Linked DNA regions of Homo sapiens: all the other regions are reported to be linked to region 2. The links are microRNA targets in miRTarBase. Many come from high-throughput screens and were not tested one by one. Region 2 holds a microRNA gene; each other region holds the end of a gene's coding sequence.
The links. The annotated mature microRNA hsa-miR-6747-3p reads UCCUGCCUUCCUCUGCACCAG and lies in region 2 at 2,780-2,800, opposite strand. An mRNA with a match to its seed (bases 2 to 7 or 8) in the 3' UTR can be bound and repressed. Matches are read on the target gene's strand: a 7mer-m8 pairs with bases 2 to 8, a 7mer-A1 pairs with bases 2 to 7 and ends in A, and an 8mer does both.

Region 1 (5,247 bases), not on the chromosome of region 2:
TGGGATAACTTTGATGGGCTGCCCTGGTGCAAGAAGTCAGGAAGTCTGGGGCAGGCAACTGGGGCCTGGTTTATTGCAATTTCTGCAGAGAAAAGAAAGTGGCAGAAAAGAACATGTTTATGTAGTCTTTCCCACTAGGCAGTACTGTTTTCATTTCTCTCTTTTTAATTTCAGATCTTCAGCTCTGTAAATGCCATCCTTGATCTTTCTGTTTTTGGAAAAGAAGTTACTCTAGAAACTCTGGTAAAAGACCTGAAAAAAAAAATCCCGAGTTTAAGCTTCAGTCCTTTGAAACCCAATGGAAGAATCTCCGTGGAAGGATCATTTCTGGCTGTCAAGAGGCTCAGAGAATCTTTGCTAGCAAGAGCATGTTCTCTCTTAGAAAAAGACAGAAATTTTACCAGTGAGGAGAGAAAGTGGAATAGACAAAATCCCCAGAGGAATCTACAGAGAAGTAATAACTCTTTGGCATCAGTCAGGACCTTAGTACCTGAGACTGCTAGAAGTGGAGAAATGCTTGTGCTTGACACAGATGTTTTTCTTTACCTGAAACACAAGTGTGGATCTTATGAAAGCACACTGAAAAAATTCCACATTCTGAGTCAGGAGAAAGTGGATGGTGAAATCACCACAATTTGTCTAAAAAGCATTCAAGTTGGTTCTCAGCCAAACAATGCAAAACATGTAAAAGAGCTCATTGAGGAATGGTCACATGCTCTTTACTTAAAGCTTAGAAAAGAGACATTTATTTTGGAAGGAAAGGAAAATAGAGAGAAAAGAATGATCAAAAGGGCATGTGAACAATTAAGTTCGAGATACCTTGAAGTCCTGATTAACCTTTATAGGACACACATTGACATTATAGGATCTTCTTCTGACACTTACCTGTTTAAAAAAGGGGTCATGAAATTAATAGGGCAAAAGGTTAGTTAATAAAATCTCAGCAATATAGTCATAAGGGCTGCTTTCTCTTGCTGAGCAGTGACCATTGCCATGAATGAGGCTAGCTTTACACACCGTATCTCATGAATCCTTATAGTCATCCTTCTTTGTCAGTGTTGACTATCCTCATGTTACAGCGGAAGAAACTAGGATTTGGAGAAGTTAAAACACTTTTCTGAAGTTATCCAGTTGACAAAGAATGAGGCTGTGGCTTAGCCCAGTCTATCTGATTACACAGATAATATCTAAGGAATAAAACTTTGAAAAAAACTCACCAAACTTTTTTTTTTTTTTTTTTGAGATGGAGTCTCGCTCTGTTGTCCAGGCTGGAGTGCAGTGGCGTGATCTCGGCTCACTGCAACGTCCACCTCCTGGGTTCACACCATTCTCCTGCCTCAACCTCTGGAGTAGCTGGGACTACAGGTGCCCACCACCACGCCCGGCTAATCTTTTTGTATTTTTTTAGTAGAGATGGGGTTTCACCGTGTTAGTCAGGATGGTCTCCATCTCCTGACCTTGTGATCCACCCGCCTCGGCCTCCCAAAGTGCTGGGATTACAGGCGTGAGCCACTGCGCCCAGCAAACTCACCAAACTTTGAAGGAATCTTACTTTCTCTGTAACTCCAAATTATTAGAGAATAATAATTATTAAGAAGTAGCCTTAACATATGAGAAATTTGAAAGGTGATTATTATGCCATGGGCAATTTCTTAACATTTACAGTTTGTGTTTACTCCGTGTAGAATTAGAATACTGGCAAAAATCACTGGGGAAACTACTTAGATGGAAAGCATATCTTATGCAGGTAATCATTATTTGACTAAATTCTATTGTTTCAAGGCTGCTGGCCACATAGGATGTTTTTACTATTTTTTTAGCCTAAGTGCTTACATAAAATGGTGATTCTTTTATAATTGTGCAAGTTGATAATATTAATTGAGTCATTCTTGTCACATCCAACTAAAACAGACTCAAGAAGCTAGGGGGAAAAAGTACTTGGGACACATAATATTGCTCCAAGAATGTAATTCTCTGTGAGCCTGGCTACTGAAACTGCTTGCTGTAACCTGAGACCAGTTTTGTCTATAGCTGCTGAGATAACTTGCTGTAACTCTAGGACTAATTTTACCTATGGCCATTGCCCACCAGTTGGAGCTTGCCAGCTCCCCAGGGCTTTACTAATACCAATGAACTTTCTCTTAAGATCACAAGTTGGCCGGGCGTGGTGACTCATACCTGTAATCCCAGCACTTTGGGAGGCCGAGGCGGGTGGATCACAAGGTCAGGAGATTGAGACCATCCTGGCTAACATGGTAAAACCCCATCTCTACTAAAAATACAAAAATTAGCCGGGCATGGTGGTGGGCGCCTGTAGTCCCACCTACTCGGGAGGCTAGAGGCTGAGGCAGGAGAATGGCGTGAACCCGGGAGGTGGAGCTTGCAGTGAGCCAAGACTGCACTACTGCACTCCAGCCTGGGTGACAGAGCGAGACTCCGTCTCAAAAAAAAAAAAAAAAAAAAAAGAAAGACCACAAGTAACATTCTTAGTTTTAAATAAAACCCTCAACCTTCTCTTTGTTTGTTGGACATACTAAAGATCACCTAGAATTGAAATTCTTTCTTCTCAAAACATTAAATTTAGTTTTGTGTCTACATTTTCATTTTGACTTTGACATGCATGGTGTCAGAAGTGGGATACAAAGCTGACTCACCTCATGGAGAATCATTGGCCTTTGGAGTTATGGCATGAGGTACCCATGTTGGGGCCCTTTGAACCCCCTACACCCCCACCACTTTCACAGGTAATCCTTTCTCCCTCCAGTAAGTATCTCTTGGACAGAACTCTCAGATATGGTTCGAGTTCTGTTTTATTTGGGATATGATTAGGGAGAGGTCTTTCCCCCTCTTGTTTGGTAGATCTGTTGGGTAGAATTATTTTCCCCCTGTTGACCTCAGCTGCGAGGTTTGGACCTTGAGGCTTGGATGAGGGAATTTTTCCCTTTCTTTGGAGAAGGCTTATCATTCTTACTGGTAAGCATGTATTTTATTTTCTGTCCTGTCTTGTATTTATTTGGCCTTTGTGTATTCAGTGCTTGCATTTACTTGGCTTTTGCATAGTTGACATTAAATCAGAGCACCCACGAAATGAGCTCTCAAAGTTCAAAGGCATGCCAGAATATTTTCTGGAACTCCAGCTAGTAACATATTCAAACATTACAGGGATCATTTAGTCTGTTTTTCTTAAAACTGAACTAAAAGATGGAGGCTATAAAATCATACACTCCAAATAAGATATGCATATTTCATTGATATCTTGAGGCTAAAAAAAAATAAAAACAAAAACAAAACACATTCAGGATACAAATATTGCCTTGTTAAAAAATACTGTCTCAAAGGTGGCTGAAACTTTCTTTTCTAGACCTTTCCCCTCCCCTTCTTACAGTATCCCCTCTTTATCCTTCTCTAAACAGCTATTCTAACATACTACTTAAATAAAAACACTTGAAAACCAGCAGATATAAAACAAAGTCATTTTGACCTTCCTACTGTTTTTTTTTTAAAGCAAAGATTAAATTCCCATGTAAAACCTTCCTCCCTATACAAAAAAGAATAGCAGCATTTTTATCTTCAATGACAAAGAATTGAGTCCAAGAAAATACTGTATAAACCTTGTTAAAAATCACTCTTGTCTTTTGGTCCTACTCACATAATTCAGCACACTTTCACAGTTAACTATTTTTTGTTCAATTTAGTGCACTGGTGAGTGACTCAAACTGCTTTATCCCAAATTTGATTTACAGCCTTTATAAGATTGCCTATTAAAAAAGCTTAAAGCTTATCCTTAGCCCATTTTGTCAGAAAAATAATTTGCATCTAATCATTTTTATAAACTGGTGAATTTACGTGTTTTACTATATCATGACTAAAATTCTAAAATAAAAGTTTTAATATCTTTATGTATATGTGTTTAAATGTGTTTATGTGTATGTACATATATTATGTTGAATGTTGTATCTACATAAAAGCTGGTGTAGTCAGCCAGAAATCCCTTAACAAATTTTATTCTGATTGGTTTAAATAAATGAGCACTCATATAAAATGTATAGTAATTAACCCCCAGTTTTTTTTAGTTGATGTGACTTAAGTAAATCTTTGATAAATTAATTGGTTTTAAAATTGTGGATAAAATAAAATTAGAAATGTCTTCAAAATTGTCAGCAGACATTTTTGTCTGGGTTTACTGGTCAGACAGTTTTATATTTGCCTCTGCTAGATGTTTTAAAGTCATAAAGCCTAAAACAAAATGATCTTTGTTTATATAGTTTTTAAATAAATATGATTATATTGTTGTTTTAATAAAAATAGCTGTAACTTTTCTGAGTTAGCAACAGGGTGGCTGTTTTTAACTTTAAGGTTCTTACTTAAACCTTAATATCAAGATAAATACTTCATGGTAACAGTCTATAAAACTGATTAATAAAAACAATGACTAGTTCTATCTCAATTTTCATAAATCTAGGAATAATTGAGAAATAAATCTTATAAATGAAATAAACATTTATAAATGAGCTTTTCATGTAATTTTAAAATCTTAAAATTATGTTAAATGATACTCATTAAATGTCTGGATCATATCCAAATTAAAAAAAAATTGCTAAATACATAGACATTTGTTCTTGGCTTCTTAGGTTTTATAAAAGGACTAAAAGTATTTCGGTCTATTAATCAAAATATAAATTTAGGAAAATACAATTGATGTATTAAAAATTATATGGTAAATTTTTATCCTAAGATAAAATAATTGGTTGTTAAAAATTTTATTTTTTATTTTTATTTTTTGAGACCGAGTTTTGCTCTTATTGCCCAGGCTAGAGTGCAATGGTGCAGTTCCAGCTCACTGCAACCTCTGCCTCTTGGGTTCAAGTAATTCTCCTGCCTCAGCCTCCCAAGTAGCTGGGATTACAGGCACCTGCCACCACACCAGGCTAATACATTTTTTTTTTTTTTTTTGAGACGGGGTCTCACTCTGTCACCCAGGCTGGAGTACAATGGCGCGATCTTGGCTCACTGCAACCTCTGCCTCCCGGGTTCCAGCGATTCTCCTACCTCAGTCTCCCTAGTAGCTGGGATTACAGGCATGCACCACCATGCCTGGCTAATTGTTGTACTTTTAGTAGAGGGGGGTTTCACCATGCTGGCCAGGCAGGTCTCGAACTCCTGACCTCAGGTGATCCACCCACCTTGGCCTCCCATCTTCCTGGAACTTTTTGAAACAGCAAGAACTCAAGGTGCAACAGTTACAGG
Region 2 (5,247 bases):
GCAGGCGGATTGCCTGAGGTCAGGAGTTTGAGACCAGCCTGACCAACATGGTGAAACCCCATCTCTACTAAAAATACAAAAATTAGCCAGGCATGGTGGCACGCACCTGCAATCCCCAGCTACTCGGGAGGCTGAGGCAGGAGAATTGCTTCAACCCAGGAGGCGGAGACTGCAGTAAGCCGAGATCACACCACTGCACTTCAACCTGGGCAACAGAGTGAGACTCTGTCTCACAAAAAAAAAAAAAAAGGCCGGGAGCAGTGGCTCATATCTGTAATCCCAGCACTTTGGGAGGCGGAGACGGGCGGATCACGAGGTCAGGAGTTCGAGACCAGCCTGCCCAGCATGGTGAAACCCTGTCTCTGCTAAAAATACAAAAAATTAGCTGGGCATGGTGGTGCGTGCCTGTAGTCCCAGCTACTCAAGAGGCTGAAGCAGAACTGCTTGAACCCGGCAGGTGGAGGTTGCAGTGAGCCAAGATTGCACCACTACATCCCAGCCTGGGCGACAGAGCCAGACTCCATCTCAAAAAAAAAAAAAAAAAAAAAAAAGGGGGCCAGGCACGGTAGCTCACACCTGTAATCCCACCACTTTGAGAGGCCAAGGTGGGCGGATCACGAGGTCAAGAGATTGAGACCATCCTAGCTAACACGGTGAAACTCCGTCTCTACTAAAAATACAAAAAATTTGCCAGCCGTGGTGTCACGCGCCTGTCATTGTAGTCCCAGCTACTCGGGAGGCTGAGGCAGGAGAATCGCTTGAACTGGGGAGGCGGAGGTTGCAGTGAGCTGAGATCACACCACTGCACTCCAGCCTGGGTGACAGAGTGAGACTCTGTCTCCAAACAAACAAACCAAAAAAAAACAAAAAACACAAAAAGGAGCCAGGTACAGTGGCTCACACCTGTAATTCCAGCACTTTGAGAGGCCAAGGATCACTTGAGCCCAGGAGTTTGTGACCAGCCTGGGCAACATAGTGAGACCTAGTCTCTACAAATAATAAAAAATTAGCTGGGTGTGGTGGTGTGTGCCTTTGTCCCAGCTACTCCAGAGGCTGAGGTGGGAGGATCGCTTGAGTACAGGAGGTCAAGACTGCAGTGAGCCGTGATCACGCTACTGCACTCCAGATTGGACAACAAAGTAAAACCCTGTTTCCAAAAAAAAAAACCTTGGGGAAAGCATTTCTGGCAGCCCTGTAGGGCATCATGGTAACCCAATAAATAGACATTAATAAACATTCCCAAAACCATGTTAAGAAAATGTAAAGTTTATTAAATAAAGATTTTAAGTTTACTACTGCCTCATTTATTTCCTGCCCAGAGTACTGACCTACTATATGTGAAAATCTCTAGCTAATAATTAACAACGTCTGAGTTACAACACAATATGTAATTTGGGTTAATTATCATGACCTATTTACACACACCAAAAATCCTGCTCACTCTTGACCTGCACCTGTGCTAAATTCAAGGCAAATCACTAGTTCAAAAAATACATCTTTAAAGAGTGCCTGTGTCTGGATGGAGCCTTCCTGGTCTTGTACAAAATACCCGGGAGTAAGAACTTTCAGCTATACCCCAAGTTGCTCCCATCTATTAGTGCAATGCTTGTAATTCACAATTCTATGCACAGCTACTGTGTCCCTACCAGTGGGTGCTCCTTTAGGCTGGTTCACCCGGTATCCAAGCCATTACAAGATGGGAGAGGGTGAAATGTAAACCCTAGCAGACCAAGCAGTAAAAAGATGAACGGCTTTGGAAATGACAGGGTGAGTGGGAGGAAAAAGTACAGAGAAAGAGGAGTTCCAAAGCAAAGTGACCACAGAATATATATTTCTCAAACTGCTTGAACTCCCAATAAAATGACTTGGAGCAGTGATGGAAGAAAGACTCCATCCCAGAGAACTGGGCAAGCACTCAGCGTCCTACATTTTTCATGCCAAAAATCTCGTTTTTACTATATTATTTCTTCCAAGAAGCCCTACCTTTAACTGAAAAAGGGATACAGAGGACACCTACTTTCTTCTACTTGGGGACTTTACTCGGTTGTGGAACAATGAACTAGACAGACACTACTTAGCTATGATCTTCATCCTTTTTCTTAGTGAGCAATTTTTGTACAGTCTGATTCAGCAAAACAGAAAACAAAACAATTCAAAGGACCCTGCTCTGGCATCCACTATCTCCGCACAGCCGGGCGCGTGGCGCACCGCAAGGCTCTCTGCACTTTCTTCCTCCCCACGCCTCTCCCTGTATTTGTTCTCAGAGCTCTCAAATGGTCAAATGAGCTTGCTCAAAACCAACTTACCACTATATCAAAATCTGTTCCTGTCTTTGTTGGAATAGGAGTTCAATCTTCCCCAGTACTGGCTGTACTTGAAACTTGCTCTCCACAATCAAAATTTGCCCAATTCCTGATTATCAGCCAGAAAGCTGCTTTATTTGCAACTAAAATATACCTTTAACTTTATATGGACAACCTAAAATTCTGGCTCTAGCTGTGTGTGAGGGGGGACATACAGAGGTGAGAACAGGCCTTCTTTGGTCCCACACCCTCCACCCTCCAATATCCTTACCTCTTGGGCAGGTGAGCGAAGGGGTCCTTGGCCTTGGGCTCAGCAGCCAGCGCCTGCTCACATTCATCCATCTCCTCCTCAGGAGCAGGGGCAGCCGCCTTTTTCTCCTCCTTCCGCTCAGCCTGGGGCTTCTGCTTCTCTTCCCGTGAACCCTTCTCTTTCCGTGGTGTGTCCTTTTTAGGTTGGGTCTCTGCAAACTTTTTAGCTGGTGCAGAGGAAGGCAGGAAAGTGAACGAATGTTCTGCCTCTTTCCACACCCCTCCAAAACCACACAGAGCAAGCAAGGTAACAGAGGAAACTGACGAATGGGACAAGTAAGGAACTTAGGCCCCAGACTGCTCATCAGTTCACTGTGTGTCCTCCAGCAACAACACACTCAGCAACAAATACTTTATATCGCAAATCTATATAGTAATACAAATTAGTCAGGGTATGAGTGTACACGAAACTGCACATAATATTAGCTACCACATTGACACCCTACATTCTGCAGGTCCCCATAACCCAAAAGCAAGACAGGAAATCAAGGGGTTGATGCAGAGCAAACCAGACCCTGATCCTGGCCATATGCCTCCCAGTCTCCTCAGACTCACCATCAAACTGGGCCATCTTCTCACACAGTTTCACTTCGCCCAAGACAGCCCGGAACTGGGGCTGGTTAATGCAGGTGAGGAACCAGCGGTTGGTATTGGGAAAGGCCTGGCGGAAAGAAGGCTCTAGAACCTGCCAGGACATAAGGGTGTAAACAAAGTCAGTGGAAAGGCCCTGAAGAGTTCTGTTCACAGCAAGAGTCCTTGCTCTACCTAAGTCCCAGTGCTCACCTTCTTTTCAAACCCTATAGACAATAGCTTCATACAACATCATCCTTCCCTGGATTACTTCCCATTTCTTCATTTTTTTCAATTTTTTTTTTTTTTGAGACAGAGTCTCACTCTATCGCTCAGGCTGGGGTGCAATGGCGTGATCTCAGCTCACTGCAGCCTCCATCTCCTGGGTTCAAGTGATTCTCGTGCCTCAGCCTCCCATGCCTTAGCCTTCTGAGTAGCTGGGACTACAGGTGCCTGCCACCACACCCAGCTAATTTTTGTACTTTTAGTAGAGATGGGGTTTCGCCCTGTTGGCCAGGCTGTTCTCGAACTCTGACCTCAAGTGATCCGCCCACCTCGGCCTCCCAAACTGCTGGGATCTCCGAGGCGGGCGGATCACGAGGTCAGGAGATCGAGACCATCCTGGCTAACACGGTGAACCCCCATCTCTCCTAAAAATAAAAAAATTAGCTGGGCGTGATGGCGGGCAGCTGTAGTCCCAGCTACTCGGGACGCTAAGGCAGGAGAATGGCGTGAACCCGGGAGGCGGAGCTTGCAGTGAGCGGAGATCGCGGCACTGCATTCCAGCCTGGGTGACAGAGTGACTCTGTCTCAAAAAAAAAAAAATTAGCTGGGCGTGGTGGCACGTGCCTGTAGTCCCAGCTACTCCAGAGGCTGAGGCAGGAGACTCACTTAAACCCAGGAGGTGGAGGTTGCAGTGAACCGAGATCACGCCACTGCACTCCAGCTTGGGTGACAGAGTGAGACTCTGTCTCAAAAAAAAAAAAAAAAAAAAAAAATTTTAATAGAGATGGGGTCTCACTATGTTGCCCAGGCTTATCTTGAACTCGCATGCTCAAGCAATCCTCCTGCCCTGGCCTCCTAAAGTGCTGGGATTACCCGTGAGCCACCACACCTGGCCTCCATTTCTTTTTCTAATCTTTTTTTTCAGTGTAGTCCAGTTTAATGGATGGATGCTTGGGTCCATCCTCCATTTAGGAGTAGGAGTAATAATTGTCTTGCTCCTTTACAAAACTATTTCAGATCTACTGTTTCCAATCTTTTAAATTTCAAACGTCGGCCAGGAGCGGTGGCTCACGCCTATAATCCCAGCACTTTGGGAGGCCGAGGCGGGCAGATAACCTGAGGTCAGGAGTTCGAGACCAGCCTGGCAAACATGGTGAAACCCCGCCTCTCCTAAAAATACAAAAATCAGCCAGGCATGGTTGCACATGCCCGTAATCCCAGCTACTCAGGAGGCTGAGGCAAGAGAATCACTTGAACCCGGGAGGCAGAAGTTGCAGTGAGCCGAGATCGCGCCATCGCACTCCAGCCTGGGGGACAAGAGCGAGACTTCGTCTCAAAAAAAAAAAAAGATTGAGACCCACAGAGGGCTATCGAGGACTTTTTTGCCAAATAAAATCTAAACACTATAGGTATTTACTATCTATATTGGCCATACTATACACACACGCACACACACACACACACCCCCCACACCCACCCATCCATCAAACTTCAGAAAGTAAAGAACATTCAAAGAAAATATTCAAACGCATTTAGAATAATGGACAGTCCTGGCTGGGTGTGGTGGCTCACCCCCGCAATCCCAGCACTTGGGAGGCCGAGGCGGGTGGATCACCTGAGGTCCTCAGGAGATCAAGACCAGTCTGACCAACATGGCAAAACCCCATCTCTGCTAAAAATACAAAATTAGACGGGTTTGGTGGCGCATGCCTGTAATCCCAGCTACTTGGGAGGCTGAGGCAGGAGAATCGCTTGAACCTGGGAGGTGGAGGTTGCAATGAGCCAAGATCGTGCCACTGCACTCCAGCCTGGGTGACAGAGCAAGACTCTGTCAAAATAA
Region 3 (5,247 bases), not on the chromosome of region 2:
GCCTGTAATCCCAGCTATTTGGAAGGCTGAGGCTGGAGAATCTCTTGAACCCAGGAGGCGGAGGTTGCAGTGACCGGAGATCGCGCCATTGCACTCCAGCCTGAGTGACAAGAGTGAAACTCCGTCTCGGAAAAAAAAAAAAAAAAAAAGGCCGGGCACGGTGGCTCACACCTGTAATCCCAGCACTTTGGGAGGCCGAGGCAGGTGGATCACCTGAGGTCAGGAGTTCGAGACCAGCCTGACCAACGTGGTGAAACCCCATCTCTACTAAAAATACAAAAATTAGCTGGGTGCAGTGGTGCGCGCCTGTAATCCCAGCTACTCAGGAGGCTGAGGCAGGAGAATCACTTGAACCTTGGATGCGGAGGTTGCAGAGAGCCAATATCATGCCACTGCACTCCAGCCTAGGCCACAGAGCATGACTCCAAAAAAAAAAAAAAAAAAGCTAAATGGAAATTTCTAGAAATAGTTCATAAGTTTCAAATCCACACCATCCTGAATAGCTTGAAGTGTTGTGCCATGCTGCTCTGTCATGTTTGGTACGTGAATCGTCCCTTTGTGCAGCCTATCTATGCTATGTGGGCTACCTGCCCGTTAGTAGTCACCTAGGGTATCCAATCAGCTGTCCTGATATCAGAGTGCCTGTGTTCAAGTAACTCTTATTTTGCTCAGTGGCCCCAGATTGCAAGAGTAGTGATGCTGGCATGTCATAATAGTTCTATTTTAGTATTTGTTATTATTGTTGATCTGTTACTATGCCTAGCTCATAAATTAAACTTTCTCATAAGTATGTATGTATAGGGAAAAAAACAACATATATATGGGGTTCGGTACTATCTACGGTTTCAGGCATCCACTGGGGTCTTGGAATGTATCCTCCAAGGATAAGGAAGGACTAGTGTATTCCCCACACCCCTCCCTCTTGCTACCTTTTGCTGCTTTTCTTTAATCACCCTCTCCTCCTGTGGCCTGTTTCTATATACTTGGCATTCTGTTTGCTTTCTTTGTTTTGTCAATCACTTCCTTTCTTCTCTGCCCAAACCCTGGTTGCAGGTGGCAATGGCTACATCAATGACTTTCCCATGGGCCGCTTTCTTCGAGATGCCAAGCTGTATGAGATAGGGGCTGGGACCAGCGAGGTGAGGCGGCTGGTCATCGGCAGAGCCTTCAATGCAGACTTTCACTAGTCCTGAGACCCTTCGCCCCCTTTTCCTGCACCTAGTGGCCTTTCTTGGGAAGTAGAGATGTGGCGGCTTTCCCACCCTGCCCACAGCAGGCCCTCCTGCCCAGCTGCTCTTGTCAGCCCTCTGGCCTCTGGATGAGGTTGAGTTCTCCACAACAGCTCCCAAGCATCATGGGCCTCGCAGCCGGGCCTGTGCCACGGCTAGTGTTGTGTGATTTAAAATGGACTCAGCAGGAAGCATATTGTCTGGGGATTGTTGGGACAGGTTTTGGTGACTCTGTGCCCTTGCTCTCTAACTTCTGAGCCCACCTCCCAGGGTAGGCACCTGGGGGCATGCAGGTGCCCACCTCCCAGGGTAGGCACCTGGGGGCATGCAGGTACCCACCTCTTTCTCTTGGGTGAGGCTCTGGCAAGGAGATCTCTCTGCTCAAGCACAGCAGAATCATGGCCCCTCTCCATGAATTGGAACTTGGTACAGGTTAAGTATCCCTAATCCTGAAATCTGAAACACTTGTGGTTCCAAGCATTTTGGATAAGGCAAATTCAACTTTCAGTCTCTTTTCTGGGGGAAAAAAATAATAAACCTAGCCTAGCCAGGCGTGGTGGCTCATGCTTGTAATCCCAGCACTTCAGGAGGCTGAGATGGGTGGATCACCTGAGGTCAGGAGTTCAAGACCAGCCTGGCCAACATGTGGAAACCTCGCCTCAACTAAAAATAGAAAAAAATTAGTTGGGCATGGTGGTGGGCACCTGTAATCCCAGCTACTTCAGGAGGCTGAGGCAGGAGAATTACTTGAACCCAGGAGGCGGACGTTGCAGTGAGCCGAGCTTGTGCCATTGCACTCCAGCCTGGGCGACAAGAGCAAAACTCTTCAAAAAACAAAACAAAACAAAAAAACCCTGGCCCTTGTTTCTTCCAGTTTCTAGAGGTATCAGCTCCTAGCAGCTTATGAACACATATGCTTGCTTGGCCAGGCAAGGTGGTGTGTGCCTGTAATCCCAGCACTTTGGGAGGCCAAGGCAGGTGGATCACTTGCAGTCAGGAGTTCAAGACCAGCCTGTCCAACGTGGTGAAACCCCATCTCTACTAAAAATACAAAAATTAGCCAGGGGTGGTGGTGCACGTCTGTAATCCCAGCTACTCAGGAGGCTGAGGCAGGAGAATCACTTGAACCCGGGAGGTGGAGGTTGCAATGAGCCAATATGACACCGCTGCAGTCCAGCCTGGGCCATAGAGTGAGACTCTGTCTCAAAAAAGGAAAGAAAAATAGGCTGGGCACAGTGACTCATGCCTGTAATCCCAACACTTTGGGAGGCCGAGGCAGGTGGATCACGAGGTCAGGAGTTCAAGACCAGCCTGGCCAAGATGGTAAAACCTCGTCTCTACTAAAAATACAAAAATTAGCCAGGTGTGGTGGCAGGCTCCTGTAATCCCAGCTACTCAGGAGGCTGAGGCAGAGAATTGCTTGAACCCGGGAGGCAGAGTTTGCAGTGAGCCAAGATCACACCACTGCACTCCAGCTTGGACGACAGAGCGAGACTCTGTCTCAAAAAATAATAGGCCAGGCATGGTGGCTCAACGTCTGTAATCCCAGCACTTTGGGAGGCCGAGGCGGGCAGATCACAAGGTCAGGAGTTCGAGACCAGCCTGACGACCAACATGGTGAAACCTCGTCTCTACTAAAAATACAAAAATTAGCCAGGCCTGGTGGCACGCGCCTGTAATCCCAGTTACACAGAAGACTGAGGCAGGAGAATCGCTTGAACGCAGGAGGCAGAGGTTGCAGGAGCTGAGATCGCGCCATTGCACTCCAGCCTGGGCAACAGAGTGAGACTCTGTCTCAAAAAATAATAATAAAATAAATGAACACACATGCTGCTGAGTCCGCAGGGGGGGCAGAGCAGAGGACAGCGTGCTTTTGTGTACTGTTGGAAGACTGGCTCCTCCTGTACAGCACCTCTGAGCCCTTGTGCACCGCCCTGCCACGGGCACCATCCAGTCCTGGCCGTGTGACCACCCACAGCTGACTGGGCAGCAGGCACAGGCCCTACCCGAGCAGGCCGGAGTTGGCTCGCATGACTCCAGCTGAGGCTGCCTGTGTACATTTCTCCAGATACCCTATGGCTAATTTTGTTATAACTGCACAGTGGCTGCTGCCATTTTGTATTAAATATATTGTGAAACAAACCTATCTGGGGAGAAGCAATCTACTTGCCGCTGCTTCCTGTCTGGATCCAGCTTGTGTCCTTGGAGAGTGGCTGGCCCAGGTCCTATTCCTGTCCTCCAGCCCGTTCTTTCATGAGGGACAGGAAGGTAAAATCAGCCCTTAGGAGAGAGGTCTCAGCCTCCCTTTCCCAGATCTCCCAGTGAGTTTTAAAGGAAGCAGGGAGCCCAGAGTGCTAAGTTCTTACAGCCAGAAGGAAGCTTATAGATTTCTGAAAACCGCCCCTTTGTTTTTAAAAAGATCAACACAATTTGACTTTCTCAAGGTCAAAACGAACTAGAATCCAGATCTGCTCATGGCAAAAATGGGGGTGTTCTGAGAATTCCAGCTTTGGGCCGCACTGTACAGCAGTCTGGATAGAGTGTGATCTGAGAAGGGAATGGGTCTGGGTTGTTCCACCCCTTCCGAGTTCCAAAAAGAGGGAACTGGTTTTCTTGGTTCTCAGCCCAGCAGCACCTATCCTGGCTCTTGGTCCTGGCCTGCAGCCAAGTGCTGTTCCTAGCCTGAGGCTTGAGACAGGTGGGGTTGGCTCCTCACCAACCCCAGTTCCGTCCCATCCTGAGGGCAAGATCCTGGGCTCATAGGCAGTCCCTTTCACTTCCTTGTCTTGCTCCCTGCTATGTTGGAGATGAATGTGACTAAAAGGGCCATCTTGCTGGCTTAATGTGTGGCTGGAGAGACCAGCCTGGAGACAATGTGGCAAAATGGGGCGCTTCATCCAGTCTGTCTAAGCCCTGTCGACTTGGGGAGGTGATTTCTTTCCTGGTTCTATATGTGAAGCAAAATAAATGTTTTAAAATTAAAAGCAAAAAAAACAAAATGAACCATGCAGCCTGAGTGGTAAATGGAAGAACAAGGGGCACGTCTACTTTGGTTCTTGTGGGCGTGTTTGGTTGCCTACATGCATTGGGCAAATCTGCAGCACCAGCTGCCAGCACTGCTCCTTCCTGCGGCTGGCTCTTACTCCACTCCAATTTTAGGCAGGTCACACTATCAGGGCAGCTCGCTGCTGTTGATGCTGCCTGCCCTGTGGGAGGGCAACAGAACCTTGGGATGTTTTTTAAGCGTGGTCTGAGCACACCCCTTATCAAAATTTGGCAACCTAGAATAAATGCAGGTTCCTGGATCCTGCCCCAGACCTAATCACATCCCCAAGGGTGAGTCTGCAAGGCAATCTTCTACAACCACCATCTGAGTCCTAAAGCAGGCTTCCCCAGGAGCCTAAGTCCTAATTCTAAATCCATATAATCTAGTGATAACAATCCCTTGCCCATGTAACCCTCTCAAGTCTGAGATCCTTGATCTTTGCACAACCGAGTGCAGGAGGCAAGGTTTCGCGCAGGGCCCCCTTTCAGAAGACCGGTAAGGTGAGTTGCCCTCGGTGGAATGGGACTAGACCTGGTGTCAACACACCGCGCGGTCTGGAGAGAGGTTCCCAGTCCCTGCCTGCCGGGTGGGAGCTGGGACCTAAGACCCAGGTGGCCATCTGTCGCGACCCCCAGCCTAGGGCAGGTCCAGAGTCCTTCCTCTGACCCTCTCCCTCGAGGCAGCGCGCTTCTTCGAGCGCAGCACTGGCTTGCCAGACGCAGCTCGAGTGTCGCATGGAGCTCGCCTGACCCCTGCCGGCTGCCCGCGGGGTTGGGTTGCAAACGCGCGGAGCCAGCCTATATGGCCTTTGCCTGGGGTTCAAGGCCCCCAGTTTGGGATTTCAGGACTCAACGACGTTTTGTTTTAGCCAATAAGGACATGAAAGGGAAGAGGGGTTGGGGGAAGCCTATCCTCTATTACCATCATTTCATAAAAGGCTTTTTTTTTTTGAGACGGAGTCTCGCTCTGTCG
Region 4 (5,247 bases), not on the chromosome of region 2:
AGAAGGCCCCTTCAGCTCCTTTGTAGGTATGAACAAAACGGGCTATTGAAGACATGCCAGGACCACAAACTCTTGAGAGAAAACGGCATGTGGAAAATTTGTTTCAGCAAAAGGCAATTTGGCACGTATTCGTAGAGAATGGGATTAGATTTATTAAACGGGGAACCCCCAACTCCATCTGGTTCTCTCTGCATCAGCACTGGGGAGGGCTATGAGGAGAAAGAGCTAGGGATTATTTTTTGGCTTTCATGGATTTCTTCCTCAGGGATCAGATATAAAATTTAGACTGACCTTCGTTTCAGAAATTGTAAGCTGGACACCATTGGCTTCCTGATGGTTTGTGATCTCTTCAGTCACCTCCATAATGGAGTGACCAGCTCTCTTTAGCTTCTTAGAGATATGTTACTGTTGGCCGGGTGCAGTGGCTCACACCTGTAATTCCAGCACTTTGGGAGGTCAAGGTGGGCAGATCACAAGGTCAGGAGATCGAGACCATCCTGGCTAACATGGTGAAACCCCGCCTCTACTAAAAAAAAAAAAAATACAAAAAATTAGCCAGGCTTGGTGGTGGGTGCCTGTAGTCCCAGCTACTCAGGAGGCTGAGGCAGGAGAATGACCTGAACCTGGGAGGTGGAGCTTGCAGTGGGCCGAGATTGTGCCACTGCGCTCCAGCCTGGGCGACGGAGCCAGACTCCGTCTCAAAAAAAAAAAAAAAAGAAAGAAATATATTACTGTTTTGTGTGTGTGTGTGTGTTTTTTTTGTTTTTTTTTTTTTTTTTTTTTTTTTTTACAGTGACAGTGAATCCTAAACCTGAATGGCGCTCATGTTTTCCAAGAGAAGCAGCCCCTGAGGGAGTCTGCTGAGGCTGCCAACAGAGGATGAAGAGGATACAAATTTAATTAATTTCAAATCAACATAGACACAAGAACCTTTTGCTGTTTCTTCCAACGCCCACTCTTCCTAATGATGGCATCACTTGCACTTGGAAGAATGTGCAATTGAGAAGTACTAGGAAAAGGCCTGGCTGCCATCCATCGCTGCCTCTGAGGGTGGAGAAGGAGGCGGGTGATGTGCTCACTTCTGATCAACATGTGTTGCCTCCTCTCAGCCAACTTCTAGCTCACTGAACTCACTCTGGTCATGATAAATGTTCGTCACCTTTCTGCTTCATTCCTTAGGGCCTAAATCAGGAAGCTGTTTTATCGATGGTTTCCTTTTGGGTCAGTAACCAGCTTTGGATAATTTCCTCTGATTATTCAAGTCGTGGGACAGGTAAACTACATTCAGCAGGAACTTTTCTCGAGGAGTGTTATGTCATGGAAAAGACACCAAACACAGCAAGTATTTTAATGAATACACCATCCCAGGGGGTCAGTAAGCTCTGCCTGCCAAGAAGACACAGTGAGAGGGGTCCACAGTCCTGATGAGGTGGCGTTTGGTAACTTGTAGACCCTAGCATGGCCAGGTCTGGTCACCCTTAAGAACTTCTCAGAGAAACTAGGAATCTTCAGTGAAAGAACTAATGTTCTCCTCAGCTGAAATTCCCTTGCTTGTCAGCATTTCTGCAAAGCTCACACTTGTTTCACCATACCTCCCTTGGATGTGACATGTAGGTAGGAAGTATGTGCAGGTGGGAGTCATCTGTCAGCCTTCTATGTTTCAGAGATCCTGAAGGTGGTTTGAAACAAACAGAAGAGGAGCAGGAAATATCCGTGCCTGTGGCAGATCTCACTCATCATGCTTAGCATTCTCTCCCGCCAAGCTGGGATAAGCCTCATGTCCTAACACAGCACAACAGGAGGTCTCTGTCAGTCCATCAGAGATGACATTCTATGTGATATTTTTGACATCCTTGTGCTAAAAGCAATGGCACAAAATGGAAAAGGGCCTATTGACCACACCTACTCCAGTAAAATTGTTCTTCATTTATTCCTTAATTTTCTAAATCTGACCCCTTTAAAGCAATCTAGCAAATTGAGAATCCTCAGCTCTCCTTGGATACCTGATATTTTATTTCAAGAAAGAGACAAAGAAGGAAAATTTTATTTATTTTACTACCCACATATAAACCGAAGGGAGATGGGACTACCCAAACATTTGCTGCTCAATTTTGTGTCTTGTGCTTGAAAGTCTGCCCTAATGCATAACAAAAACTACTTGTCTCCTACCTTTTGGGATCCCTTTAACAAGTATTTGCCTTCTGAACTACGTGGATAATTTCAAAGGCAGAGTTCCAGACCAGAGAGGTCTTTCCATACAATGAAAGCTATAACTAGCTGGTTGTGTTTAACCACTGCTATCACGCTATCCTGGGACTGCATAGAACTTTGACAAAAGACAGACTTCATGGTACACAACTTCAACAGATTTTCTGTCATATTCTCACCAGCACATCTGAATGAGGCTTTGTGTTTTCCTTGCTCTCTTGCATGTTCCTTTTCAACTCATGGCCCACAGTGACTCTCAGATATTTATGCCAAAATTGCATACAATTGTTTTCTGAATCATAACTTGTCTATTTTTCTGCCTATGTGTGCTACTTTCAGTTTGTTTCTCATCAACATTTTGACTCTCAGAAGAGCCTCCATTTGCCCCTTTCTCTCTTTAGGTATCTAAGATCTTTGAACACCTGGGCCTTTACATTTGATCCAACCCTATCAAATAATGAACTTCTCAGAGAGGCATCTGGGGTCCTGGAACTTCATGTTGATGAAGTCATATTATATAATATGATAAAAATATTCTCATGCAGTATTTTAAATAATTTCAAATTCTAGAAGAAGCAAATTTCAGCGACATGTCATTGAGTTTTTATTTGGTAAAGCTATAATTGTGCAGTGTACAAAGCACTTTTTAAAAAGATAGTTTATTCTGTCAGGGTATATGAAGTTAGTATACAGCCAGAACAGCCAAGCCTCAATTCTTGTACCTTGTGTCTTTTTATTACTGTTTAATCAATAGATATCATATGTTTATGACAGTTTCAAGAATTGTTTTTAAACCCAAACTTAATTTTATGTTTCAGACTATTGTTAAAAAAACAAAACAAAAACCAAAAAAACCCTCACTAATTTGCCCTAATTGGATAGGGCAATCAGAACAAAATCTGACTTTCGAATATTTAAAAGATATGTAAGTTTGATTGCATTTTCGTACATTTTAAGCAAACTAGGTTAACAACAACATAGCCTAGTCAAACTTCTCAGGAAACTTGTTTTAATAAATATGTAAAAATACCCATTCATGACTCTTGACCCAATGGTGTGACTCCTCCCTCTGGGAAGGGCTTTGTTACCCAATGCAAGACCACAGCCTGGATCCACCTTGATGTAGGTGGCTCCTGGATAACCCACATCAAACAAATGTGATAAAGATGAGTAAAACTGGTCTTGGGAAAATAATTTCATAGTTTTTTTTTCTCCTAGTTATGCTGTATAATACAGGAGAACCAAAAGCTGTAAAATTATTTTATTTTATTTTTTAAAGACAGGGTCTCACTATGTTGCCCAGGCTGGTTTCAAACTCCTGGGCTCAAGCAGTCCTCCTGTCTCAGCCTCCCAAAGTGCTGGGATTACAGGCATGAGCCACTGAGCCCGACCAGCTGTAAAATTATTATATTCATTTTCACTATGTGCTACTTCTTCTCACCTGACTTTTTTTTTTTTTTTTTGAGATGGAGTCTCACTCTGTCACCCAGGTTAGAGTGCAGTGTCACGATCTCGGCTCACTGCAACCTCCGCCTCCCAGGTTCAAGCAATTCTCTTGCCTCAGCCTCCCAAGCAACTGAGATTACAGGCCTGTGTCACTATGCCCAGCTAATTTTTGTATTTTTAGTAGAGATGGGGTTTTCACCATGTTGGTCAGGCTGGTCTCAAACTCCTGACCTCAAGTGATCCACCAGCCTCGGCCTCCCAAAGTGCTGGATTACAATTGTGAGCCACTGTGTCTGGCCACACACTGACTTTCACTGTAATATCTGGATGTTTTATGTAACATATCTGGGCAATAGGGCTTATGGCAGAATTGGCCCTCGTGGTGTAGGCCTTCCAAGTTCCAAGTCTCATTTTTAGTATTCCTCCGTTCCAACCCCTGGATCCACCAGTTCCAACAGCCTGGATCCACCTTGATATTGACAGCCAGGCAGATGCTTCTGCTGATCACCGCAGCTCTAGCAATGGAAATGGATATGTTAAGAAAATACTTGTCTATTCTTTTATTTTGGTGGTTTAAACTATTAATTCACACCATCTCTGAAAAAAGGCCTTATGTTGACTAAAGAAAACATAGGCTTTAGTTTCAGCTTCTGTCAGAATTAGTACCAATTCTGAATCTGGTGGAGTGATAAGACATGGTTTCATGCTGGGAAGACACTGCTGAAATCCTCCTTGTGGGAGAACATGGAAATTTTATACTGAATTAAATTAACGCATGTGACTTTTCACATTCAGAGACATTCAGGATGAATTCTGGGGTTTCCATTTAATAGCTATAACAGGCAGTCCAGAACAACTTCACATATAGCAGCATTTCTGCTATGTGACAATGACCAAAAGAGTTCCTGTATATTAGTGTCTAGTGGAATATTTCAAATTGCAGAACCCAGACAACCAATTGCCTGAATTATTATTATTTTTTGTTTTTAGCAACTCTTTGGCTTTATCTTGATACTGTCTTGTCTGGCACCAAAGTTTTATTTCCTTCTTAGTCCTCTTGGGGATAGTTTTTGGGTGTTTTTTTTTATTTTTCTTTTTTTGAGACGGGGTCTCATGCTGATGCCCAGGCTGGAGTGCAATGGTGTGATTATGGCTCACTGCAGCCTCAACTTCCCAGGCTCAGGTGATTCTATTACCTCAGCCTCCCAAGTAGCTGGGACTACTGGTGTGCACTACTAGGACTGGCTAATTTTTTGTATCTTTTGTACAGATAGGGTTTCACCGTGTTGCTCAGGCTGGTTTTGAACTTCTAGGTTCAAGCAATCCTCCCACCACAGCCTCCAAAAGTCCTGGGATTACAGGTGTGAGCCACCATAACTGGCTGGAATTATTTGTACCTGGACCTTGTGTTTTGTTTTTTTGCCCTACTATCTTTTCTAAATAACATATCATGTTCCTGAGATAGCAGTATATACAATTATGTAAAATAGAGCTTTATATGAACTCTGTACATGCTCTAAGCTCTTTTTGAATGATATTTTAAGAAGTTTCTAAACCAAAGTGCTTAAGAAAACATGAAGATGTTAATTTCAT
Region 5 (5,197 bases), not on the chromosome of region 2:
ACAATAGAATTTAAAAGTTTCAGCCAAAGTTAATATGAATTAATAACTAAAATATCAACAAGCATTTTAGTTAACAGTATCTAACTCAGACCCTACAATCAGCATCTCCCATAAGCAAGAACCGGGGTTAGGTTATGTGGAAGTTACAAAGATGAGTAAATAAAACACAGCATCCCTGTCATCCCAGGACCAAAGGGATAGGAGTGAGGATGATGGAAGTAGAAACTTAAATGTGATGACAATAGGATAGAGATTGATTCCAAAAAGGCATGGGAATCTGGAAAGTTCTCAAAGAAAGAATCCGAAGGTGTTAAGAAAGGCCTTTGGAAGGTAGAATTGGAGAGAACAGTATGAACAAGGACTCAGAGCCAGAAAAATTGGGCGGGCATACAGGGGAAAGATTTTAGTGGTAATGAGGAAACAAGGCTGGGAACACAGACCAGGGCCATATCAGGTCCGGCCTCAGCAGGAGAAATATAAGCAATGGGAACCATCACACTGGGTGAAATTCAATCTTTATTTTAAAAGATGGTACACAACCATCTGCCAATTTATAAACAGATGATCAATTTATAGATTTTTAAAAGTCTACATTTTAATAAATGTTTTACATTGTGTTCATTTTATTAGCCATTTTTTGATTTTCCTAAAATCTGTTACTTATTAATGATGAATCTACTCCAAAATCTTTTTTTTTTTTTTTTGGAGATGGAGTCATGCCGTCACCCAGACTGGAGTGCAGTGGCGCGATCTCGGCTCACTGCAGTCTCTGCCTCCTGAGTTCCAGCGATTCTCCTGCCTCAGCCTCCCGAGTAGACTAGCTGGGATTATAGGCGCACGCCACCACGCCCAGCTAATTTTTGTATTTTTAGTAGAGACGGGGTTTCATGTTGACCAGGCTGGTCTCGAACTCCTGACCTCAGGTGATCCGCCTGCCTCAGCCTTCCAAAGTGCTGGGATTACAGGCGTGAGCCACTGTGCCCGGCCTCTACTCCAAATTCTAAGTACGATACTGTTTTGGTTTTAAATACCATTTTTGGTTAAAGAGCCCCATTTAAATTGTTTAAATGAAATAAATACATCCAAAGTAAATGCACGGTGAAAAATACATTTTAATCCAAAAGTTTTGAATATTGGCACTTAGAAAGTTATTTACAATCAATTTTACTATACCCTTTGTGAATAAAGAGATAATTATGTACGTGTAGCTACCTATAGTTGTTTCTTTCCAACTCAAACACCATAACTATGTGGAAAAAGGGTAAGAGTTAAAGCTGCTGCAGCTCAAAATCATTACAATCAACTTAGATTCTGCAAATTTTCCCAGGGTTGAAAAATGCTGGTTAAATCAGGACAAAAGAGGAGGCAAGTGAGTACACCCCACTCCTCTCCCATTTTACGTGTTGCTCCCTTACTTAACCGGCAAAGACCTGCACCTGAATTCTAGACAATTTCATATACAACAGGCCTCTTATTATGGGTCCATAGCAGATGGTTTAGGGTAGATGTTTTAAAGATATCAATGCTAATGGCCTACCAATGACTTTCATGACCTCCCAATATTCGTTTTAATGGTAGTCAAGAGACTATCAAGCAGGAAGCCTGATCTCGACATGTTTCCTCTGCGGCTTTGGTGAAGCTGACTATCTGCAGTATAAAATCTTATGGTTTGATCGAAGTCTCATTTTTGACTAGAAACAGTAAAGAGCAGCTTTATTAAGATCAATGGAATGGTTCTGAATGCCTGTTTCTACAGAAGGATTAAATTAAAATTTTTTCTTTTTTTTCTTTTTTGAGACAGTCTTGCTCTATCACCCAGGCTGGAGTGCAGTGGCACGATCTCGGCTTACTGCAATCTCCACCTCCCGAGTTCAAGCAATTCTCCTGCCTCAGCCTCCCGAGTAGCTGGGATTACAGGCATGCACCATAACACCCAACTAATTTTTGTATATTTAGTAGAGACAGGGTTTCATCATGTTGGCCAGGCTGGTCCTGAACTCCTGACCTCAAGTGATCCATCCACTCAGGCCTCCCAAAGTGCCGGGATTACAGGCATGAGCCACCGCACGTGGCCTAGATGAAAGTTTTTAAAAGCCTGGGCTAATAAAATCATCCACCAATCATTTTTCTTATGGTTAAAGCAGCCAAAAAGCTGTCACAGCATTTTTGAGATGAGAACATAAGGCTTGTGTGGCTTTATGATAGATGCTGTTAGTCATTTTATTTGATTAAGCCCTTGGTCAGTCATCTATACCTTAATTAATATTTTGTTCTTATAGAAAAATACAATCCATTTTATGAGTTTCTAGAAATAAATAATGGAGAAAAATAGATACTACCTGTTCCTAATGGTCTCTCTGGAAATTACAGCTTTTGCCTAGGAAGATACACATATAGAATATAATTTAAGTTCAAAATATATTTCATTATATTCTATCCCTTTTAATTTTTTGTTTGTTTCTTTGAGACGGAGTCTTGCTCTGTCCACCCAGGCTGGAGTGCAGTGGCACGATCTCTGCTCACTGCAACCTCCGCCTCCTGGGTTCAACCAATTCTCCTGCCTCAGCCTCCCGAGTAGCTGGGACTACAGGTGTGCGCCACCACACCTGGCTAATTTTTGTATTTTTAGTAGAGACAGGGTTTCACCATGCTGGCCAGGCTGGTCTCGAACTCCCAACCTCAGGCGATCCATCTGCCTCAGCCTCCCAAAGTGCTGGGATTAAAGGCGTGAGCCACTGTGCCCAGCCTTTTTTTTTTTTTTTTTTTTCCGAGACAAGAGTCTCACTCTGTTGCCCAGGCTGGAGCACAGCGGTGCAATCTTGGCTCACTACAACCTCCACCTCCTGGGTTTAGGCGATTCTCCTGCCTCAGCCTCCCAAATAGCTGGGATTACAGGCACATGCCACCACACCTGGCTAATTTTTGTATTTTTAGTAGCGACGGGGTTTCGCCATGTTGGCCAGGCTGGTCTCGAACTCCTGACCTCAGGCGATCCACTTCCCGACCTCAGGTGATCCGCCTGCCTCGGCCTCTAAAAGTGCTGCAATTACAGGCATAAGCCACTGTGCCTGGCCCTATCCCTTTTAATTTTCTAAGTGACCAGTAATAAACAATGATTTGTTTATTACTAGGTAGCAGGAGAAAAACTTTTTAGTCACTTTTCCAGCTAAGAATTTCATTTAAAGATACCTATGACATATCTTGTGGTACTAAGAATATTAGAGAACTGGAAATCCAGTTTTTTTGTGGTTTTTTAAGAAAGAGAATCTGACTCCATTGCCCAGCTTGGAGAGCAGTGGTGCAATAGCTGGGGCTACAGGCGTGAGCCACCACACCAGGCCTGGAAACCCAGTTTTAATTTGTGAACTACAAATGGTTGGCAACTGATTCCTTAATTGTTATTGCAGGAGTAGGCCCAACATGAGTCCATATGTAGCCCTTCTCTGGTCTGGTGGGAACTGTGGGAAATGGTGATGACCGTGACTTGAAATACTCAGAAGGTGCATGACAAACAAATTCCAAGTATTCCATCTTCCTTGGAAGATCTTCCTCTGGCCCTGGAAGGCAGCCAAGGGAAAGGTTAAATACATTTTTGACCATATATATCATTTTCATAAGATGTTAAAATTTCTAGACACTGGGAGAGACCACTCTGGGAGCAACCTGGCATTAGCCCTTGAAACATGCATTACTTTGAAATTATTCTTAATCATTTTTTCTTCTTTAACGGCTTAAAGAATATGGCATTCTCCCAAAAACAGTGATTGAACACTTGCATCATGTTTATTTTGTACCCACACTGCTCTAAGTTTACATGTATCAATACCTTCATTCCTCACATCAACCTTCTGAGGTAGGCACTATTATTATTCCCATTTTACATATGAGGAAAGTGAGGCAAGAGAGACTAAGAAACTTGCCAAAGTCACATGGCCGGTAAATGGCAGGCTGTGAACCTAGACAGTCTGGCTCCAGAACTGGTGTTCTGACCTCATGCCATGCTGCCTCGCTGTAGGACAAGGATGCATATCAGAATCTGGGGATTAGAAAGAGGAGGCAGTAGAGGAATCCCGAAGGTGATTCTGATACATCACTGCCTCTGCTGAGATCCTGATCCATAGATAAGGTAAATAAAAATTCTATATACTTATAAGCAGAAGGCTAGAATTGTTTGGTAATGTATCAAACTTGACATATAGGTGAGAATAACAGTGGTATATTATTTGTCCCTGGAGTTCTCTCCAAAAACACACTTATGCTTGTTCTCAGGATGCAAAAGTAATGATGCATGCTCACTGCAGAAAGATAAAAAGTCTGAAGTAACTGTAAAAATCTGAAAACTTTAAAAATTGTATTAATCAGTAAATTCTTGTGAGTCTATCTCACAACTGTTTTGGCAGCTTTGAAATTAACAAAAGCACAGCAGCTGCCATTTCAACTATCAGCCTTTATACTATAAAGGCCTAAGATGACATGTGTAGCATGCAGAGGCACACATATTGAGAATTTGCAAGTATGGGATAACTGGGATAGTTCTTTCCTAAATTATTTTTGAATAGGTTTGTATAAATAAGTAACCTAAATAACCTAGTTCCTGAGCAATACATTCTTGTAGTACAGTTTAACCCTGGGTCACTCCAAAAAAATCTTATCCATACCACTTCTTAGTAGATGCACATTGCTCTAACTCAAAATAACTGATAGCACTCACACTCCAGCTACATAAAATGCCTCATATTTTCTATAAAGCTCTCTAATTTTTTTGTACTTAATAATACTCATGCTTTTTTTGTTATGGACTGAATTGCATCCCCCCCCGCCACCCTCCAAATTTATATGTTGAAGCCCTAATCCCCAATGTGATGGTACTTGGAGATGAGACCTTTAGGGAGGCAATTAAGGTTAAATGAAACCATAAGGGTGGGGCCCTCATCTGACAGAAATGGTGTCCTTATAAGAAGATACACCAAAGAGCTCTCACTCCATGAAAGGCCATGTGAGGACACAGCAAGAAGGTGACCATCTATATGCCAGGAAGAAAAGCCTCCCCAGAAATCCGTGTTGCCAGCACCTTGATGTTGGACTTCAGCCTCCACAACTGTGAGAAAGTGACTTTCTGTTGTTTAAGCCACTCAGTCTGTGATATTTTGTCCTGACAGCCCAAGCTGACTAACACACTCTTTTACATAATATTGGA
Region 6 (4,000 bases), not on the chromosome of region 2:
CCTGATGCTTGTGGGCTGTTTATTTGGCTTACAATGTTTTAAGGAAATTCTTGCTCCCTTTTCACCATGAGTGAGTTCTGGGGAAGGTGAAACAAGGATAAGTGCTTTGTGTCAGTCTTCCGATAGCTCGTAGACATGTTTAAACAGAAAAACTCTTTGTGAATGAGGTCTTTTCTCCCTCTGGAAGTAGGAACCTGGGTCCCACACGTGGTAGGAATGAAAAAAGGTAGGTAGGCTACCTTTTTTTTTTTTTTTTTTTTTTTTGAGACCGAGTCTTGCTCTGTCACCCAGGCTGGAGTGCAGTAGCGCGATCTCAGCTCTCTGCAACCTCTGCCTCCCGGGTCTCAAGCAATTCTCCTGCTTCAGCCTCCGAGTAGCTGCAATTACAGGTGCGCGTGCCACCACACCTGGCTAATTTTTGTATTTTTAGTAGAGATGGGGTTTCACCATGTTGGCAAGCTGGTCTCGAACTCCTGACCTCAGGTGATCCACCCCCCTCTTCGACCTCCCAAAGTGTTGGGATTACAGGCCTGAGCCACCCTGCCTGGCCTAGGCTACCTTCTTAGGACCACCATCACTATCAAGCCAGGGAGGGGGGTGTGAGACAAGGGCAAATAAAAACGCCACAAAATTTTCCTACCATTTTTAAGTTGCTTTTTTTCTGATTTGGTGTCCACTTGGTTGGTGTAAACCTTGGACCGTTTTCAGAGTTCAATTAGAGTCTTTTCTAACAGTTGTTGCATTTTTCAATTTTTTTATTTTTGTGATGAAATGGGCTCTTGGAGCTACATTCTACCCCGTTTATGCTGACATCACCCCAAATATTTTTGGTGAGGAAAAGAAACTAATTTGGAATTGACGTCTAGGAGAGATAACTAAGGAGCTGGAGCCACTGATTGCAAAACAGCAAAAACATGGCTAAAGCCTTTAGGCAAGGTCACATTTAAATAGCCAGCGTTTCTAATCATTAATACAACTTCTACACTGTTGCTGTTTTTCACTTTTCCCAACCCATTGGTTGGTGTGATGAGTTAAATTCAAGGCCCAAAACCAACAAGTTCCAGGGTAAAAGTGAATTGCTTTGTTACAGTATAGTTTTATGATGATGAATACCTTCTTTAAAAAAAGCAATGTTGGTTTATAGAGTTTAAGATAAAAAAGTAACCAAGTGTTGGTATGGTGGCTCACACCTGTAATCCCAGCAGTTTTGGAGGCTGAGGCGGAAGAATTGCTTGAGGCCAAGAGTTCAAGACCAGCCTGGCCAATGCAGAAAGACCCTGTCTCTTAAAAAAAAATTAAAACAAAAAATTAGTCAGATGTAATGGCATGACTGTAGTCCCAGCTACTCAGAGGCTGAGGCAGGAGGATCACATGAGCCCAGGAGTTTTAGGTGCAGTGAGCTATGATCGCACCACTGCACTCCAGCCTTAGTGACAGGGTGAGACTCTGTCTCAAAAAAAAAAAAAAAAAAAAAAAGAACGTAACAAAGATAAACTTTGAAATCAGAAAGATTAATAAAAATAAAAGTGGACAACATACACAGCCTAATTTCAGTAATTAATAAAAAGCTTCAGTAATGAAGGCTGTGTGGTGGTATTGGCCTTAGAGCAGACAAACAGATCGATGGCACAGAATTAGAACCACACATATATTGTCAACTGATTTTTTTTTTATATAGATGCCAAGTTAATCCTATCCTGAATGACAGTCTTTTCACAAATGATGCTGAGACAAATGGGCAGCTTTTATGAAAAGGGAATGGACCTCTATCGATACTGCCCAACAAATACATGCGTATGGATCACAGGCCTAAATGTAAGATCAAAACTATTAGCTTAGAGGAGAAAACAGAGATGACTTTAATTGTAACCTTGGAGTAGTCAAAATATTTCTTAGGATAAGAAGGCACTAACCATGAAAAAAATATGATAAATTGGATTTATAAACTTTAAAAACTTCTTATCGAAATATACCATTAACAAAATGCATAGAAAAGCCCCTGAATGGGAAAATAAATGATAAGATGCATTTTCACATATGAATGCATGTAGCAAGTGCAATGAAAATAATATTCCATTTATAGTATGAACAATACATACAATAGTTGAATTTCAGGCATAAATATAAAGGGAAAAAATAACAGAAAAGTTGTACCTTGTACTTGATTGTAAAGACTGTAAGAAAGATAACACTTCCTAATTTAGTGAAGATATTTTAACATAAGACTAATTAATTTTTATCAGTATATTTTAAATAATAATTTAAAATGGGATTTCCAAGTCAAGGAAACATGCCCTTGTTTTTGGTTTGTTGACTTTTTTTTTTTTTTCTGAGACGGAGTCTCATTCTTGTCACCCAGGCTGGAGTGCCTGGTGCACTCCAGCTCACTGCAACCTCCATCTCCCAGGTTCAAGCGATTCTCCTGCCTCAGCCTCCCAGGTAGCTGGGATTATAGGTGCACGCCACCATGCCTGGATAATTTTTGTATTTTCAGTAGTGTCGAGGTTTCACCATGTTGGCCAGGCTGGTCTCGAATTCTTGACCTCAGGTGATCCACCCACCTTGGCCTCCCAGTAGTTTGTTGACTATTCTTAATAGTGCATTTAAAAAAATCAGATTGGAATAGGGCAATCAGGAATTCTAGAATTGGTCTTTGACTTGTTAGTGGATATTCAAATAAACCTTCCAAAAAAGGTTAAGAATACTGGAATAAAAATTAGGCCATGAGCTGCCCCAAATATCATAACAAGAAACATAATCTTAAAAAATGTTCTGAAGATGTATGCTTTCGCTGCAGCTAAAACACACACCCCTATTATTGTTGAAATTGCACTTTGTAACACTGGGTAGCCTAGAAGATACAATGCCTCAACTGATTTTTGGTTTACTGAGGGTTGAGAACTAGAAACAAATGCATAGGAAATGTGTACAGAAAAATCGAAAGAAAACCCTATACAAATGACAAGATTAATCATGGATATGGAATCAAGATTGACTTTCCAGAATGCCATGAAACCCGTTACCCCTACAATCACAGAACCAATAGCAAAAGTCACCCACAAGGAACACAATGGATAAGGGATTAACAATAAGGAAACAATGAACATAGCTGCTGATGCAACCAATACATTTCTAACAGTGTCTTCTAATATTGCAGCATACTGATCAAAATATATAAATGCCTGGTTATACACCATTAGGGGAATTTGACAGTCTTCAGCTATGCGTCGTAATTAGAATAACAATATTTTCTTTTTGGCTGAGGAAGAAACATCTGTTGTCTGAATGAAGCCCCGGGAAGAAATGATTTCATTTGATGAAGAAATATTAATATCATGCTGAAAATTTGGAAAATTGCTTAAAAAATCAGGAATATTGTTCATAAAAGTATTCTTCTCATTAGGATCTTGGCTGTTACCTTTTAAATATTGCACATATGCATCTAACCAAAACTCTGTAAGATTTTTATCTACATAGACATTTTTTTCAAAAATTTTAGTACAGTTTTCCAGTTTTTGCCTAACATCTTTATCCCAGTAGTCAACTTTTTTAGTAACAATAACCATAACCCTGGGACCATAATCTGAAAAATAATTCTCCTCTACGTTAAAATATGGTGTGATGTAGGAATCGTCACTTGCCAGATTTCGAAGGTCTAAACCTTCCTGCACATGGAAACACCCATATATACTGCTTATGATGTACAAAACATATATAAAGACTACAAAATACTTGGACTCACTCCTTGTGAGAAAGGGGCCAAAATAGTCTCTAAAAAACAAACTTATTGGATGGATATCAGTTCCATGTTCATCTGGGACAGAACCAAATGGGAAACAGCAGAACTTTTTAAATGAGGGCCATTTTGGGTCAGCCTTTTTCAACCAGCATAGGCAGACTACTTCTCTTTTACCATCCAAGGCCATAAATGCTCCAAAACACGTGATGTTATAAAAATAGCAAAATAACAGGGTCATTCCTGTATAGATGCAAAAACATT

Region 1: miRTarBase lists RBM43 as a target of hsa-miR-6747-3p. Seed matches in the 3' UTR shown: 8mer at 2,346-2,353.
Region 3: miRTarBase lists IVD as a target of hsa-miR-6747-3p. Seed matches in the 3' UTR shown: 8mer at 1,962-1,969, 7mer-m8 at 2,202-2,208, 8mer at 2,337-2,344, 7mer-m8 at 2,503-2,509 and 8mer at 2,930-2,937.
Region 4: the mRNA of TMEM154 is a reported target of hsa-miR-6747-3p. The part of its 3' UTR that is shown has no 7-base or 8-base seed match.
Region 5: the mRNA of GATAD1 is a reported target of hsa-miR-6747-3p. Seed matches in the 3' UTR shown: 7mer-m8 at 3,019-3,025, 8mer at 2,861-2,868, 8mer at 2,556-2,563, 8mer at 1,883-1,890, 7mer-m8 at 932-938 and 8mer at 794-801.
Region 6: the mRNA of PTCHD3 is a reported target of hsa-miR-6747-3p. Seed matches in the 3' UTR shown: 8mer at 2,421-2,428.

The regions. Positions count from the first base shown.
Region 1 is chr2:151,246,592-151,251,838 of GRCh38, reverse strand. RBM43 (RNA binding motif protein 43) reads left to right here. Exons shown (of 4, transcript NM_198557.3): 4 at 175-3,899. The coding sequence ends at 933. Among named protein-coding and RNA genes, the nearest start is that of RBM43, 13 kb to the left of the region's middle.
Region 2 is chr11:62,564,232-62,569,478 of GRCh38, forward strand. MIR6747 (microRNA 6747) reads right to left here and starts at 2,840; the gene lies at 2,780-2,840. EEF1G (eukaryotic translation elongation factor 1 gamma) reads right to left here. Exons shown (of 10, transcript NM_001404.5): 6 at 3,168-3,297; 7 at 2,575-2,779.
Region 3 is chr15:40,417,077-40,422,323 of GRCh38, forward strand. IVD (isovaleryl-CoA dehydrogenase) reads left to right here. Exons shown (of 12, transcript NM_002225.5): 12 at 1,054-4,232. The coding sequence ends at 1,187. Among named protein-coding and RNA genes, the nearest start is that of IVD, 14 kb to the left of the region's middle.
Region 4 is chr4:152,624,108-152,629,354 of GRCh38, reverse strand. It overlaps TMEM154 (transmembrane protein 154), which reads left to right. Exons shown (of 7, transcript NM_152680.3): 7 at 794-5,247. The coding sequence ends at 809. Among named protein-coding and RNA genes, the nearest start is that of TMEM154, 53 kb to the left of the region's middle.
Region 5 is chr7:92,454,732-92,459,928 of GRCh38, reverse strand. It overlaps GATAD1 (GATA zinc finger domain containing 1), which reads right to left. Exons shown (of 5, transcript NM_021167.5): 5 at 1-3,557. The coding sequence ends at 3,367. Among named protein-coding and RNA genes, the nearest start is that of GATAD1, 9.8 kb to the right of the region's middle.
Region 6 is chr10:27,395,061-27,399,060 of GRCh38, forward strand. PTCHD3 (patched domain containing 3 (gene/pseudogene)) reads right to left here. Exons shown (of 4, transcript NM_001034842.5): 4 at 2,061-4,000. The coding sequence ends at 3,234. Among named protein-coding and RNA genes, the nearest start is that of PTCHD3, 17 kb to the right of the region's middle.